2 separate regions of the Homo sapiens genome follow, and region 2 is linked to region 1. Evidence: fine-mapped QTL for protein levels in blood plasma. Region 1 holds a variant in brackets. A gene starts in the other region. All regions are shown on their forward strands.

Region 1 (2,901 bases):
AGATGGAGTCTTGCTCTGTCCCCCGGGCTGGAATGCAGTGGTGAGATCTCGGCTCACTGCAACCTCCACCTCCCAGATTCAAGCGATTCTCCTGCCTCACCCTCCCGAGTAGCTGGGATTACAGGCGCCTGCCACCACGCCCAGCTAATTTTTGTATTTTTAGTAGATTCGGGGTTTCACCATGTTGGCCAGGCTGGTCTCGAACTCCGGACCTCAAGTGATCCGCCCACCTCGGCCTCCCAAAGTGCTGGGATTACAGGTGTGAGCCACCGTGCCCAGCCTGGGAGTGGGGTTAGTTCTAAGTTGGTGAGAGGCAAGCACAGCTCTCGAGGGACATCCTGCCCGGAAGACGTACTCGTGGGGGCCTCAGCTGGCCCTTGGCACAGTCATTCAGAAAGTGAATGTGAAGGCTTGCTCTGCACCCAGCCCCAGGAACCCGTGGGGCAGCAACCTGTTCTTTTGTTTGTTCGTGTTAGGCTCGGAGCTCCCAGAGAGGGTCTAGCATCCTTCTACAGACCGACCCCTGGAGACAGCCCCCACCAGGATACATCCTTGAGAATAAGCCCCAGGAAAGGGTTTGGGCCACAAATGGCCTTGTCTTCCTGGCCCAAGGTCATCAGATCTGCCTCAGGCAGGGCCTGCAGCCAGCCCCCGGCACCTTCCCTTGAGGAGAGGGTCTGCCCAGTTTTGGTGGAAGGAACAGGGCACCAGCCTCCAGTGCTGCTTCTGCAATCCCATGGCCCCGACCCAGGCCCCAACCCAGGCCCTGGTAAGACGGTGACCCAGGGAATCTGGAGCTCCCTGGCCCACTGCGGCAGCCGTGCCACAGGTGACATCGTGAGCCCCGCCCCCCCGCCCCCCGCCCTGAGTCCAACCCCAGCCCTGGTTCCTTCTCCCTGAACTTCCCACCTGGGGACAGAATGCGGGCCTAGGGCTTTCCCTGGGGGTGACCTGAGAACAGCTAGTCCAGCACCTCACCTCACTGCACGCTGTAGGCCCAGCCTCCCTGGGTTCCCGCCCCCTTATCTCACAGGAAGAGCTGGGCCTGGAGAGGGGCAGATGGCTGCACAGCCTCACGAGGGGC[C/T]GGGGAGCCGCACCTCTTCCTGCCAATCAGCCCAGCAACCGGCGACCCCAAGCGCGGCGACCGCAAAGGGAGTGCTTGCCCATCCGCGTTTGAAAGCAGACTTTTTCTCGGCAGGAACACAGGACTCACCTGCCAGTGGCTACCCAGGCAGGGGCTTCCCTGTTCCTCAAGGGGCCGGAGTCCCTCCGTTCTTTGGGGGACCATCTGAGGGAGCACGGGAAGGAGCCATGGATGTGGAGGGCGGCAGAGCCAGGACGTGAGACACGACAGCAGAAAACACTTGGGCACACAAATGCCACACCCCCACACGCACATACGTGCACACATACATGTGCCAGGCACGCACCCCAGCCAGGTGGAGGAGGGTGGGGGTCAAACCAGGCTGCACCGAGCACAGGTGGTGGCTGAGTTCCGGTTGGCCCAGCTCCAGGCTGTGGGGAGAAGAGAGATGGCGGCATTCTTTCGGACGCTTTTATCCACTATGGGAGCAGGAAGACAGCCAGGGTTATCACAGCACAATTTGAAAAACATACAAATAATTCATGTCAGCATAACGTCATGGTGTTGTCAATAATGAATCCACACTTAAAACCCAGATTGATAGCTTCAAAGGGCAGCCCCCACCCCTGGACAGGTAGGCAGGGCGCAGAGCCAGCCCCTCTTGGTTCTGAGAAGCAAACTCGGAAGCAGTTCAGGTCAGAGGAGTCCAGGGACCGCCCTTGCTGGGAGGAAATGGGTGCAGTGCGGCCCAGCGCAGTGAGCGGGGCCAAGGGTCTAGCAGCACTCGAGTTCTGCCCAAAGACGAGAGAGAGGGTGCCGGCCTACGTGCGCCCGCTGGGAAGAACTGGAAATCCATGTGCTCCCGTTCTGCGAATCCCTTCACCAGGGCGTCGGCCACCGGAGTGGGAAAAAACCTCTCCCGGCGTGAGAGCTGGGGGCAGGCCCAAGGTGCTAGGGGCTCCCGGGAGGACTGGCCATGGCCACCCAGCATCCCTGTGCCTGGCCTGGGCCTCGGTGGCCAGTCCTCCTCGGCTGCAGACCCCAGTGAGGACAGGGACCTCACCACCCACTGCCTGGCTTCTGAGGCAGCAGTGCCCCCATTAAACCTGAGATGAACTTCTCTGGGTCTTTCAGGAAGGAGCCCCGCCCCAGCATCTGGGCTCCCAGGACGAGGGCAGTCACTAAGTGGTGATGTCATGTCACTCATCGGCCTCTTCTGCCTGTGGCCATACAACAGGCCCAGGCCTGTCCCATCCCGAGGGAGGCAGATCCTGGCTGGAGCTGGCGGAGACTTACGGCCACACCCTGCCAAGGTGTGCCCACTGGGACCCGGGCCCAGCCTGTCACGGCGCCTCTCCCTGTGCCATCCGCCAGCCCAGGCTTGATTGAGCTCCATATGAATATTCATACAGCATTCTGCTGGGACCGTCGTTAATATTCTGAGGAAGCGGCAAGAATGCCCGTCCCCATGTCGTGAGCCATGGTCAACGTGCTGCTGACACGATGGTGGCTGTGGATTTTTCGGATGCAATTGTCAGGCCTCCAGGCTCAGGAGGGTGGAGGCAGCACCGCCATCTCCAGGCCCCACCAGCACCCATCCTCTGACCACGGACCTCCCAGGCACCCCACCTGCCCCCTGGCCTTTGCCTACCACCGTGTCCTTACCTGACCCAACCTCGACCAAATGCCCCTCTTCCTCACCGCTCCTGCCCCTGCTTCTCCTCCTCAGCCCTGACCCCTCTGCCCTCCCCGCCCTGCCTCCTGCCCCTGCTTCTCCTCCTCAGCCCTGACCCCTCTCCCCTCCCCGCCCTGCATTT
Region 2 (2,901 bases), not on the chromosome of region 1:
CTAAGACCAAATGGAGCAGCTGGCATGAAGTCATTATCAAATTGATCTTTCTTGGAGACACAGGATTTGGCAATATTTTAGGAAACAGAACTTTATCCTCACCAGATCTCGACGCTCATTTCTCAACATTCAAGTTGTCTGAAATTTAACCACATATTTTTAACCAAAACATCATCACTTTCTGCACATAAGACAGTCTTATACTTGTTTTTTCTTCTTTTCTTCTTCCTTCCTTCCTTCTTTCTTCTTTCTTCTTTTTTCTTTTTTTTTTTTTTTTTTTGACGGAGTTTTGCTCTTGTTGCCCAGGCTGGAGTGCAATGGCGCGATCTCGGCTCACTGCAACCTCCACCTCCCGGGTTCAAGTGATTCTCCTGTCTCAGCCTCCCGAGTGGCTGAGATTACAGGCGCCTGCCACCACGCCCAGTTAATTTTTGCATTTTTAGTAGAGACAGGGTTTTATCATATTGGTCAGGCTGGTGTCTCTAACTCCTGACCTCAGGTGATCCGCCCGCCTCAGACTCCCAAAGTGCTGTGATTACAGGCGTGAGCCACCACACCTGGCCAGAAAAAAATAAAAATAAAAATGTATGCCTGTAATCCCAGCACTTTGGGAGACCAAGGCTGGAGGATCAGTTGAACCCAGGAGATCAAGACCAGCCTGGACGGCATATTGAGACCCTCATCTCTACAAAAAATAAGAAAAATTAGACTGGGCCACGGTGGCTGATGCTTGTAATCCCAGCACTTTGGGAGGCCAAGGCGGGTAGATCACGTGAAGTCAGGAGTTCGAGACCAGCCTGACCAACATGGGGAAACCCCGTCTCTACTAAAAATACAAAATTAGCCGGGGGTGGTGGTGCATGCCTGTAATCCCAGCTACTTGGGAGGCTGAGGCAGGAGAATGACTTGAACCTGGGATGCGGAGGTTGCAGTGAGCTGAGATAGCGTCATTGCACTCCAGCCTGGGTGACAAGCACAAAACTCCATCTCAAAAAAGGAGAAAAATTAGCCAGGTGAAGTCGTGCCCACCTGTAATTTCAGCTACTCGGGAAGCCGAGGACGAAGGATTACTTGAGCCAGGGAGGTCAAAGCTGCAGTGAGCCATGATCACGCTGCTGCACCCCGGCCTGGGCAACAGAGTGAAACCCTGTCTCAAAAAAAAATTATTAAAAAACATTTAAAGAGACAGGGTCTTGCTATGTTGCTCACGCTGGTCTCAAACTCCTGGCCTCAAATGATCCTCCTACCTCAGCCTCCTGGGTAGCTGGGACTACAGAGCGAGCCACCATACCCAGCTACTTTGTGCCTTTTGTAACCCCAGTTTTCAAGATCAGATAAACACAAAGTGAACTAAGACACCTTCTAGACAGAGTGCGGGCATGTGAACGCATGCTTGTGTCTATTTTTCTGAGTGTCACAATGCAAATAGTATGCAAATGAGTTTGTGATGTGTGTCCGTGTGCAGACCTGTGTGTGTACATGTGTGAGAGAGAGTATCTGGGTAGATAAGCAGATGGATGGATGAGAATGAGAAACCTGGAGTTTCCAGGTGCAGAGGAAACTGTTCCTCCAGGGTTCTTTTTTGAGACAGAGTTTCCCTCTTGTCACCCATTCTGGAGTGCAATGGTGTGATCTCCGCTCACTGCAGCCTCCGCCTCCCAGGTTTAAGCGATTCTCCTGCCTCAGCCTCCTGAGTAGCTAGGATTACAGGCGCTCGCCACCACGCCCAGCTAATTTTTGTATTTTTAGTAGAGACGGGGTTTCACCATGTTAGCCAGGCTGGTTTCAAACTCCTGACCTCAGATGATCCACCCACCTCAGCCTCCCAGAGTGCTGGGATTACAGGCGTGAGCCACCGCACCCAGCCTCCTCCAGGGTTGTATAAAAGCAGGGGATTTGGGGAGGGAGGGAAGGATGTGGGTCTGTCCTCAGTCCCAGATGTGGGTGTGGCGTTCCAGTGGTTAGTTCCCGTTGCCTCACATCTGTGCTTTTCCTCCACGGGGACTTGTAGAAGTAGAAGAACTTCTTGGGGGTGGAGCTGAGGGGTGGAGCTGAGGCTGGAGGGAGGAAGGTGTGGGGGGACCCAGGGGTCCTGTCTCCAAGCCTGGTTGCTCTTACGCGAAAAGTTGGGACACTGAGGTGTCACAGCTTCTCTTTTGAAATGGAGAGGAGGTAGGAGGGTGAGGTCCATCCAGGTAGACACAGACACACACAGAGACCACAGCTTCCTGTAACATTTCCGAGTGTCGAATTCCATCTCCCGGTCTAGAGGTTTTTCTTCTTGGTCCTTCCTGAGACCTCTTGGCTCCCAAGAGCCTCTTGATCGGGGCAGGAATGAGGGTGCCCCAGGGTGCGAGAGTCGTGGATCCCTGAAAAGAGGAGGCTGCTCCCCCTCTTTCTTCCCCCCACCTCCAGATTTCCTCATCTGCCCACACCTTCCGGTGGGCGGGGACGTGTATGGACAAATTTGCGGGCTGGGGACCATGGAAGTGGAGGAAATCTACAAGCACCAGGAAGTCAAGATGCAAGCACCAGCCTTCAGGGACAAGAAACAGGGGGTCTCAGCCAAGAATCAAGGTTAGGGAACTCGAGGTGGAAGGGAGGGGTTAAGAAGGAGAGATTGGGGGGCCGGGGGCTTTTGCTCATGTCTGTAATCCTAGCACTTTGGGAGGCTGAGGCGGGAGGATTGCGTGAGCCCTGGAGGTGGAGACTGGCCTGGGCAACATAGGGAGACTCTGTCTGTAAAAAATAAAAATAAAAAAAGAAGGAGAGTTCAGATGGGAGAGGTAAGGGGTCAAAGGTGGGGGCCGGGGGCTCCTTCCCCTCCAAGATGTGTGGATGTGTGTGTGGATGTGTGTGTGGTGTGATCACTCAAACTCTCACACACCCGCTCCACTTAAC

Which allele goes with the higher level. Positions count from the first base shown, and alleles are read on the strand shown. Strength reflects both the effect of a copy and how common the allele is.
In carriers of allele T in region 1, the plasma level of the protein whose gene starts at base 2,492 in region 2 tends to be higher than with C alone (strong association).

Evidence for each region. PIP is the posterior inclusion probability: the model's chance that the variant is causal. Protein levels are from antibody-based Olink assays in UK Biobank. Linkage for the fine-mapping came from a reference panel and not from the study's own genotypes, which makes the PIPs less certain.
Region 2: MCEMP1 starts here. The variant in region 1 is fine-mapped to the plasma level of the MCEMP1 protein (UK Biobank, PIP above 0.99).

What each region holds. Positions count from the first base shown.
Region 1 is chr9:136,106,226-136,109,126 of GRCh38, forward strand. LINC02846 (long intergenic non-protein coding RNA 2846) reads right to left here. Exons shown (of 2, transcript NR_189286.1): 2 at 1,624-2,594. Among named protein-coding and RNA genes, the nearest start is that of LINC02846, 1.8 kb to the right of the region's middle. RefSeq lists enhancers at 538-587, 1,861-2,473 and a silencer at 898-997. The variant C/T (reference allele first, on the strand shown) is at 1,085.
Region 2 is chr19:7,674,599-7,677,499 of GRCh38, forward strand. It overlaps MCEMP1 (mast cell expressed membrane protein 1), which reads left to right and starts at 2,492. Exons shown (of 7, transcript NM_174918.3): 1 at 2,492-2,577. The coding sequence starts at 2,523.